Homo sapiens: one gene and its partner. The protein of the gene in region 1 purifies or fractionates together with the protein of each later gene. This does not show direct contact. Each region holds a gene or a part of one and is shown in the gene's direction. Other genes may lie near its edges. The genes, in order: ZNF24 and CKM.

Region 1 (2,991 bases):
CTTCTGATGAAGTGGTGATATGGCAGTGCCAAGCAGTGGCATCGCCAGAGTATCTGTTTGGTTAGCAAATGAGCAGTCATTTTAGGTCATGCAGATTGCTGATATCTGCCCAGTAGCCACTGAGCATTTGCTGGTTTTTTCTTCTGGCTTTCTTGGAGGTTAAGCTCTCTGTAGTCATACCCAGTTGGTACTTGATCTTTAGCAATATGTCTCATATTCATGTAAATTGAAGGGAGGGTTACATGTACTGAAATAATCTGCATGCTAGGCATTGGCTTAGACACCGTACCTATCTCACTTAGATTTGTGGACTAGGAAAGCAAGATTCAGAGATCATGTGACTTGCATGTGGCCTAGAGATAAAATTCAAATCTGGTTCTGTAGACTCCAGGGACATATTCACCATGCCATGGGTGGTGGCTATTAAACCTTGATAAATTTGTGTTTATGGTTAACAAATGTGAAAGCTATTAAACATTGCTGGTTTGAATTTTTTACAGTGCAGAAATGTAAAATGAAAAAGGATATTTCCTTTCACAGTGTTACCGAGAAGTCATGATAATTTCGTTTGTTCTTCCAGATTTAGGCATATACTTATTTAATCAATAATGTGTTAACAGCTGACACCTGTGGTTGCTGTGACAGGCACTATTTGAAGTGCTTTATCATGGATTAACTCTTAATCCTCAGCTACCGTATAAAGTAGGACATAACCCCATTTCACATGCACTACACTGAGACTTGCCTCCTCTCCCCCCACATTGAAGATGTTCTTTTTTCATAACTATATACTATTCCATTGCATGAATATTCTGTAATTTATTTAATCCCCTATGGATTGATAATTAGGTTCATTATAGATAGAAGTGTAATTAACATTCCTGTACATGTATTTTGCTACTTGTGTGGGTATTTCTGTAGGATGAATAACTAGAAATTTATTGGATCAGGTTTCACATTTGCAGTTTTGAAAACTACTACCAAAAAGATTTCACCAATTTACAACTCCATCATTAGTAAGAATGCCTGTTTGCCTATAGTCTGCCAACCCTGAATCCTTAAAAATTTTTGCCAATCTGGTAGGCAAAATTTCTTTCTTTTCTTTGAATATTAATGAGGAGGAACATCTTTTCATGTTTCTTGGCCATTTGCATTTCCTATTATGAATTGCTTTTGCCCATTTTCCTTTTTTTAATTATGAAAGTCTAATGACTACCTTCTCATTGTATAAAAAACACAGTTCTTTGAATAGAGAGACCCTTTTCTCCAATGCTACCAATCACATTCCACTTACCACAGTTTAACATACATCCTCTAGTCACCTTTCCGTACGAATATACATACACATAAAAACACTTTTTACATAAATAGGATCTCATATTCTGTAGCTTTTTAAAATTTTGGTCTCAAAAAAAGATAACAGGTCTTTAAATTTCTTTAATGGTTGAATATGATTAAATACTATGAAAATGCCATTATTTATTCCCTTAATTTTTTTCCTCTCGCTATTACATTGCCAAAGTAAACATCCTATTCAGATGTCTTTGTGCATGTGTGTGAATATTTCTTTAGTCTGGAGTCCAGTAAGGTGGATTTTTGGATCAAAGGGTTTGTTCTCTGTCCACCTTCAGTCTTCCCAAAGGCCTTCATAACTGTATTTTCACCAAGTGTATGGAGAATGTTCATTTCCCCATATAACCATACCTACACTTGATAGTTTTTATCTGTTGGGCGAAAAAGAACCTTTTCTTATTTTGCATTTCCCTGATTATAAAAAAAAATGGTGAGATTGGGGTTATTTTCATGTTTATTGGCCATTTATAGTTTACTGTGGATTGTTTGTATCCCTTACCTGCTTTCTATTGGGTTATGTGTGGATATATTGTTTTTATTTGTTCAGCATCTCCTTCCCCATCTTCTGGTAACACAACCTTTATTTATTTGTGGGGAACCTATTCCCTGTGGCTTAGGTGAGCATGTGACCAGGCCTGGCCTCCTGAGTCCCACAGCTTCCTAGCCACAGTGATAAAAGAATGGGTATATAACTTAAGCCAGGCTAAGGAAAGCCCTTAACAGAACTTCTGCTGGAACTACTGGAAAGAAGGCTTTATGGAGATCCCAGGAACCAAGGACCATGTAAGCCTGAATTTGTGCCATGTGGAGAGAGTCTGTCTGAGGAGAAACTCGGATGCTAGCAGAAATGGAAAGAGAACTAAGTTCTGATGTCATTTTTCTGGAGGCCCTAGATCCAGCTGTGCCTAAAGCCTGCCCTACCTCCGGACTTTAAAGTTTTGTGAGCCAATAAAGTCCCTTTCTTGTTTAAGATAATTGAATTGAGTTTCTGTTCTGATTAATATAGGTTATTTGTATTTTCTTATTGATTTGTAGAAAACCTTTGTAATTTTAAATTCTAGACTTTATGCACTATATAAGTTAATAAAATTAGCATGGCCTTCCATGATTTGGCCTGTGTCAACTTTTGCCATTTGTTACTCCATTCTCCCTATAACACACACCCCACACACATACACTTTACATTCCAATAGTAACAACATTGATGTTGGGAATGTGGATGAACAGCTTTTTACACAATTGCCTCTTTGGCAGTTCTCTTCTTATTCTTCCTCTAGACTCATTAACCTGGGACTTTAAGGGTTACACTGCTGAGAGCTGTACCCATCTCCTACCATTGTTCTTGGGGGATTCCCCTCAAGCATTCCCTGTATACAACCCTTGGAGCCCTTCCAATGACCTCCATCCCAACTCCATGGTTCTCTGGCTCTTTGTTTCATTCTCAGGCCTGTGGACTCAAGACGTGAATGAGCACACACAGACCTGAGCAGCCTCACCCTGTGGGCTCTTTTCTATGGCCAGAAATGTAGCAGCGCTCTATGTCACCTGGCACCTCTATTAATCACATCTCCTAAGATGGAGTTTTCAAAGAGATGTCTTTCAAAATTGAGGAAAACATTTTGCAAGCTTTTATTCAAC
Region 2 (7,556 bases), on another chromosome or scaffold:
ACCCATGTCTAAACAAACAAACAAACAAACAAAAGCTTCTTTGTGGAGTGGCTGTTTAATGTCCATGTTAACCTCCTTCGAGCACATTCTCCTGTCAATGAAGAGGCTGGAAAGCTAAAGACTAGATTTTCCAGAGGGAAAGTAGGAAAGTAGTTCTGGGGCCCGAGCAGTGTTCCTTCAGCCCTTCCAACGATTTTGTCAGTGCCTAATACATGATAGTACAGTCCTTTTTTTTTTTTTTTTTTTTGAGATGGAGTCTCGCTCTGTCGCCCAGGCTGAAGTGCAGTGGTGCGATCTCGGCTCACTGCAACTCCGCCTCCCGGGTTCACACCATTCTCCTGCCTCAGGCCCCGGAGTAGCTGGGACGACATGCGCCTGCCACCACGCACGGCTAATTTTTTTTTTTTTGTATATTTTTGTAGTAGAGACAGGGTTTCACCGTGTTAGCCAGGATAGTCTCGATCTCCTAACCTCGTGATCCGCCCGCCTCGGCCTCTCAAAGTGCTGGGATTACAGGCGTGAGCCACTGCGCCCAGCCAATAGCAGAGTCCTTTCTATTTAAGCTGGGTAGTGGTTACTCTCGCCTACATCTGCCAGATACAGTTACTATTATTTATTTAGTCAACAAATACTCATTTACCTTGAGGGCACTGGGGAGCCATGGCAAGCTCTGAGGAGGGGAGGTCAGCAGGTAGGGTTTAGGTGGGAATGGCAAAGACTGGGACAGGAGTCCAGGGAGGAAGTTGGGTCAGGAGGGACAGTGGAGGCGGTCTTGAGCTAGAGTGGGCAGTGGAGGGGCAGAGGTCGGATTGACAGTCGGGCTCTGGGGGGTGGGATGAAGATACGTGATGAGGGTTGTAAAGCTCCCCAAGGCCAACTGTTTCTTTAAGACTCAAAGCAGAGGGAGCTCACGGCACAAGGTCCTGCTGGAGCGTTTGATTGGCTCAGCCCAGGTCACTGGCCTGGACCATTGCTGCAAGGGATTCTGGGAAATTGAGTTTCTGGCATCTTTGGCTTCTCCAAAGGAGGAGGGCTTACAGTGGGGAATCCCCGAACATAGAAAAGGCTTCTGGCACTGTGTGGCTAAAAAGAATGTGCAATGGGCCCGGCAGGGTGCCTCACGCCTGTAATCCCAGCACTCTGGGAGGCCGAGGTGGGTGGATCACCTGAGGTAGGAGTCTGAGACTAGCCTGGCCAACATGGCAAAACCCCTTCTCTACTAAAAATATAAAAGTTAGCAGAGCGTGGTGGCCCATGCCTGTAGTCCCAGCTACTCGGGAGGCTGAGGCAGGAGAATCGCTTGAACCTGGGAGGCGGAGGTTGCAGTGAGCTGACATCGCACCATTGCACTCCTGCCTGGTGATAGAGCAAGACTCCATCTCAAAAAAAAAAAAAAAAAAACAAACCCTCCCACAAGGTGTGGCTGGACCGTGCCACCCAAAATGCGTGTGGCATGGATCCAGCCTCTTCCCTGCTTATGACCCTCAGTGCCTCCTGTCAGTCTCACAGTGGGATGATGATGATGATTTTTTCCATTTAATATTTTAAAAAATTATTCTAAAAAATTTTTTGTAGGTATTTAGTAGGTGTGTATATTTATGGGGTATATGAAACGTTTTGTTCTTTTTTTTTTTTTTTTTTTTGAGATGGAGTTTCACTCTTTTTGCCCAGGCTAGAGTGCAATGGCGCGATTTCGGCCCGCAGAAACCTCTGCCTCCCGAGTTCAAGCGATTCTCCTGCCTCAGCCTACCGAGTAGCTGGGATTACAGGCATGTGCCACCACCCCGGCTAATTTTGTATTTTTAGTAGAGACAGGGTTTCTCCACGTTGATCAGGCTGGTCTTGAACTCCCGACCTCAGGTGATCTGCCCACCTCGGCCTCCCAAAGTGCTGGGATTACAGGCGTGAGCCACTGCACCCGGCCATGAAATGTTTTGATACAGGCATGCAACTTGTAATAATCACATCGTGGAGAATGGGGTATCCATCTTCTCAAGCATTTATCCTTTATATTACAAACAATCCAATTATACTCCTTTAGTTATTTTAATTAATTTTTGTGTGTGTGAGACAGGGTCTCACTCTCTTGCCCAGGATGGAGTGCAGCAGTGGCTCGATCACAGCTCACTGCAGCCTCGACTGCCTGGGTTCAAGCAATCCTCCTGCCTCAGCCTCCTTGTTTTGATTTTTAGATCCCACAAATAACTTGTGATGTTTGTCTTTCTATACCTGGTTCATTTAACATTTTCTTTTTCTTTTCTTTTCTTTTTTTTTTTTTTTGTGAGACTGAGTCTTGCTCTGTCACTCAGGCTGGAGGGCAATGGTGCCATCTCAGCTCACTGCAACCTCCACCTCCTAGGTTCAAGCAATTCTTATGCCTCAGCCTCCTGGCTAGCTGGGATTACAGGCGTGTGTCACCATGCCAGGCTAATTTTTGTACTTTTAGTAGAGATGGGGTTTCACCATGTTGGCCAGGCTGGTCTTGAACTCCTGGCCTCAAGTGATCCACCCGCCTCCGCCTCTGCCTCCCAAAGTGCTGGGATTACGGGCCTGAGCCACTGTGCCCGGCCCATCTAACATTTTCACTGTCAATCACAATGGGATTAAAACTCCTCCCACAGCCCCTAGGGCACCATGGGTCTGCTCCTGTCTCCCCTCCAACCTCATCTTCTTCCTCCCACTCTCTCCTTGGCCCCATCTGCTCCAGTCCCCTGGCCTCCTTCCTGTCTGTCCTCAGATGTGCCCAGCCATTCTCACCTCAGCGCCTTTGCACCTGCTGTTCCCCCCAGAGCCGCACATGGCTGGCTCCCTGTTCTCCTTCAGGTCTCTGCTCAGATGTCATCTTCCCAAAGAGGCCTGCCTCGACCTCCCCTGCTGCTGTGCCGTCCCCTCATCTGTGACCCTCTTGCACTATCACCTCCAGGACGGCGGGGGTTTTGTGTTTTGTTGTAGCCTCAGGAAGTGCCTGATAGATCCCTGTTTCGAGACCAGTTCCATTTGGTTTTCTGGGCCTCAGTTTCCGTAACCGTGAAGGAGACCCTCGGCAATCTGAGCTTGCTGGGAAAGGGCTGGGCCCCATGTAAATATTTCTAAAGCACCCCTCTCCCCTCCCCCCTCAGATCAGGAGTCTGAGGGAGAGGCACAGAGGCTCCCTTTCTCTAAGCCAGTCCTCACCTGCCTAAGAAGATGTGAAGGAGACCCAGGAGACCCTGGGATAGGGAGGAACTCAGAGGGAAGGGACATTCTTTTCTTCGTCGCAATCCTGGGAGCTCCCTGGAGGAGGAGACCCGATCAGCCTGCAATCCTGGCGCGTCCCAGGAGGAGAAAGCGGCTTCCTCTATACTGTACTCTCCTCCACAGAACCCCCCTCTCAGCCCTGGAAGTCCTTGCTCACAGCCGAGGCGCCGAGAGCGCTTGCTCTGCCCAGATCTGCGCGAGTCTGGCGCCCGCGCTCTGAACGGCGTCGCTGCCCAGCCCCCTTCCCCGGGAGGTGGGAGCGGCCACCCAGGGCCCCGTGGCTGCCCTTGTAAGGAGGCGAGGCCCGAGGACACCCGAGACGCCCGGTTATAATTAACCAGGACACGTGGCGAACCCCCCTCCAACACCTGCCCCCGAACCCCCCCATACCCAGCGCCTCGGGTCTCGGCCTTTGCGGCAGAGGAGACAGCAAAGCGCCCTCTAAAAATAACTCCTTTCCCGGCGACCGAGACCCTCCCTGTCCCCCGCACAGCGGAAATCTCCCAGTGGCACCGAGGGGGCGAGGGTTAAGTGGGGGGGAGGGTGACCACCGCCTCCCACCCTTGCCCTGAGTTTGAATCTCTCCAACTCAGCCAGCCTCAGTTTCCCCTCCACTCAGTCCCTAGGAGGAAGGGGCGCCCAAGCGCGGGTTTCTGGGGTTAGACTGCCCTCCATTGCAATTGGTCCTTCTCCCGGCCTCTGCTTCCTCCAGCTCACAGGGTATCTGCTCCTCCTGGAGCCACACCTTGGTTCCCCGAGGTGCCGCTGGGACTCGGGTAGGGGTGAGGGCCCAGGGGGCACAGGGGGAGCCGAGGGCCACAGGAAGGGCTGGTGGCTGAAGGAGACTCAGGGGCCAGGGGACGGTGGCTTCTACGTGCTTGGGACGTTCCCAGCCACCGTCCCATGTTCCCGGCGGGGGGCCAGCTGTCCCCACCGCCAGCCCAACTCAGCACTTGGTCAGGGTATCAGCTTGGTGGGGGGGCGTGAGCCCAGCCCCTGGGGCGGCTCAGCCCATACAAGGCCATGGGGCTGGGCGCAAAGCATGCCTGGGTTCAGGGTGGGTATGGTGCGGGAGCAGGGAGGTGAGAGGCTCAGCTGCCCTCCAGAACTCCTCCCTGGGGACAACCCCTCCCAGCCAATAGCACAGCCTAGGTCCCCCTATATAAGGCCACGGCTGCTGGCCCTTCCTTTGGGTCAGTGTCACCTCCAGGATACAGACAGCCCCCCTTCAGCCCAGCCCAGCCAGGTACTGCACGGGGCGGGAATCTGGGTGGGGGCCAGAGTAGGGGATTTCTGTGGGTGCTAGAGGCTTGGCTTGGGAAAGGGTCTGTGTGTCACCCCTTGCTCCACCAACATCCTCCTATACAAAGGCAGGTCGGTGCGTGGGAAGGTTGACCCTTGTGTGTCTGGGAGGCCCCTCCATCTGTGAGGCTGCCTGAACCCCCCACTGGGACCTGTGATTTCTGCGGCACAAGTCTTGGGTTATGGGGAGGGATCCGAGATGAAAGGGGTCCTGACAGCTGCCAACTGTCACCCCCTGCAAGGGGCTGTTGAGCCAGGCCTGTGTTCATTACAGTTTGTCGCCAACACTGGCGCCACAAGCCGTGGGAGGTGTGTCTGTCGCCTAGCAGAGTCTGCAAGAGCAGGTGTCGCAGGCTTTCTTTGCGTTTGCTACTGTGTGGGTCCCTGTGACCTTGTTTCTGACTTAGTAGCGGACACATGAGTGTCCTGGGCATGTCCTTGAGTTTGGAAGTGTGACTGTGTGACTTAGTTTACAGTGTGATCTGGGGAGTCTGCGGTGGTGGGGGTGTGTGGCTCTGGGGCTTTCTGCTTATGTCTCTTGTGGGGGGGGTCACCACCCTGCCTCAGTGCCCTCTCCTGGGGTGTCCCTGGCAGGGATTAGGGGGGCATCCTCTGAAGGGAGGGGGTCTGGGCTGCCATCCCAGGATGTCCTTGAGCCCCGAGGCCTGGACCCGTGTCCTCCCAGCCACCCTGGCCCACCTGTCTTGGGCCTGCTGACTTGGTGCAAGCCGAGCCCCGGAATGTGGGGGTGGGGCGGGGCAGCAGCTGGGGGTGGGATGGCAGGCAGTTGCCAGATTCTAAAAATAACCACCCTGGACAGCAGCACCCAAGGTCTTTGGCGGGTCCCTGTTCCTCTTCCCTGGCTTCAGCTCACCGTGGTCCCAATCTCCCTCCCACAATCCCACCTGCTTCCCATCCCCGTCTCCCACCGCTGCTGGAGGCCCCTTCTCCTTTCTGGGTCCCTTCTCCTTTCTGGGTCCAGTGAATAAAATAATAATAACAGTAGGACCTGGCGCAGTGGCTCACACGCATAATCCCAGCATCTTGGGAGGCCGATGCTGGAGGATCACTTGAGGCCAGGAGTCCCAGACCAGCCTGGGCAACATAGTGAGACCCCATCTCTGCAAAAAAGTAGTAATAACAAATAACAATAATAGCAGCCACCAGGGTTCCAGGCTCCAACTCCATGCCAGGGCCTGTGCTCAGCCAACCTCATGGCCAAGCTCAGAGGATCCTGGCAATCCTACGGGGCAGGCTCAGTTCACAGGAGACAGAGGTCCAGAGAGGCCTAGTGACTGGCCTGGGGTCACACAGCAGGGAAATGGCATAGGTGGGATTTGAACCTGCCTCTGACGACCCAGAGGCTGAGCTTTTCTTCCCTTCTGAGCCCTGTGGGAGAACTGTCAGCAGGCAGAGGTGGGGGCAGCTACCCAGCCCTCCCCCGACCCAGCCCTTTGTCTTTGGATTGATAATCCAAGAACCTGCTCACATACTCCCAGCAGCACCCTCACCTCCACCTTCTCACCAGCTCCTCGCACGAACCTTTAAAATAACAACAACAGGCCAGGTGCCGTGACTCATGCCTGTAATCTCAGCACTTTGGGAGGCAGAGGTGGGCGGATCACTTGAGTTCAGGAGTTCAAGACCAGCCTGGCCAACATGGCGAAACCCCAACTCTACTAAAAATACCAAAAAAAAAAATAGCCAGGTGTGGCACACGCCTGTAGTTGCAGCTACTCAGGAGGCTGAAGCAGGATAGTTGCTTGAACCTGGGAGGTGGAGGTTGCAGTGAACTGAGATTATGCCACTGCACTCTAGCCTGGGCGACAGAGCGAGACTCTGTCTCAAACATAATAATAATAATAATAATAATAGCAGCTAAGTGAAATAATGCTTATTGTGTACCAGGCACTGTTCCGAGAGCTACACCTGTATTCACACATTTAATCTTTTCAACACTCCCATGCGGCAAGTGCTGTTAGGATCCTCATTTTCTAGATGAGTAAATTGAGGCACAGAGGTTAAGCAACTTGCCCCTGGCCACACAGCTGGTTGTAGGTAGCAGAGCTGGGAATCAAACCCTGGGCTGATTCCAGAACCTACACTCTTACCCACACAAAATATTTTTCCAGCCTCCGGGAGGGGCCCGTTTTCCACCTGGGGAAATTGAGTTTCCAGCAAGAATGACTAGTCCAGGCTCACCCAACTGGGATACGGCAGAGCCAGGCCCTTGATCTAAGACTCCGGATGCCTTCCTGCTGAGACACAGGGGCTCAGAGAGAGGATTTCTCTTGCTCCAAGTTACACAGCCTGCCTGACCCCAACGCCTTGCCCAGTTCTCTTGCTGCTGTCTGCAAGATGCGAGCTAGGCGGGGCACAGTGGCTCACGCCTGTAATCCCAGCACTTTGGGAGGCCGAGGCGGGTGGATCACTTGAGGCCAGGAGTTCGAGACCAGCCTGGCCAACCAGTAGAGATGGTGAAACCCCATCTCTAATAAAAATACAAAAAAATTAGCCAGGCATGGTGGTGTGCGCCTGTAATCCCAGCTACTCAGGAGGCTGAGACAGGAGAATCTCTTGAACCTGGGAGGTGGAGGCTGCAGTGAGCCGAGGTCTCGCCACTGCACTCCAACCTGGGTAACAGAGTGAGACTCCATCTCAAAAAAAAGAAGAAAAGGCCGGGTGCAGTGGCTCACGCCTGTAATCCCAGCACTTTGGGAGGCCGAGGCGGGCGGATCACAAGGTCAGGAGATCAAGACTATCCTGGCTAACATGGTGAAACCCCGTCTCTACTAAAAATACAAAAAATGAGCCGGCGTGGTGGCGGGCGCCTGTATTCCCAGCTACTCGGGAGGCTGAGGCGGGAGAATGGTGTGAACCCAGGAGGTGGAGCTTGCAGTGAGCCGAGATCGTGCCACTGCACTCCAGCCTGGGTGACAGAGCGAGACTCCGTCTCAAAAAAAAAAAAAGAAGAAGAAGAAGAAAAAAGATGCCAGCTAATCTTCAATCTTCCCCTC

Evidence for each region.
Region 2: the proteins of ZNF24 (region 1) and CKM purify together in Homo sapiens (affinity purification with mass spectrometry; 2 studies listed by BioGRID and IntAct, with this or other methods). This does not show direct contact.

The regions. Positions count from the first base shown.
Region 1 is NC_000018.10:35,331,697-35,334,687, reverse strand, and holds the end of ZNF24 (zinc finger protein 24), read left to right. Parts: 3' UTR 1-2,461; downstream 2,462-2,991. UniProt on the Homo sapiens protein: Transcription factor required for myelination of differentiated oligodendrocytes. Required for the conversion of oligodendrocytes from the premyelinating to the myelinating state.
Region 2 is NC_000019.10:45,319,748-45,327,303, reverse strand, and holds the start of CKM (creatine kinase M-type), read left to right. Parts: upstream 1-4,428; 5' UTR 4,429-4,483; intron 4,484-7,556. UniProt on the Homo sapiens protein: Reversibly catalyzes the transfer of phosphate between ATP and various phosphogens (e.g. creatine phosphate).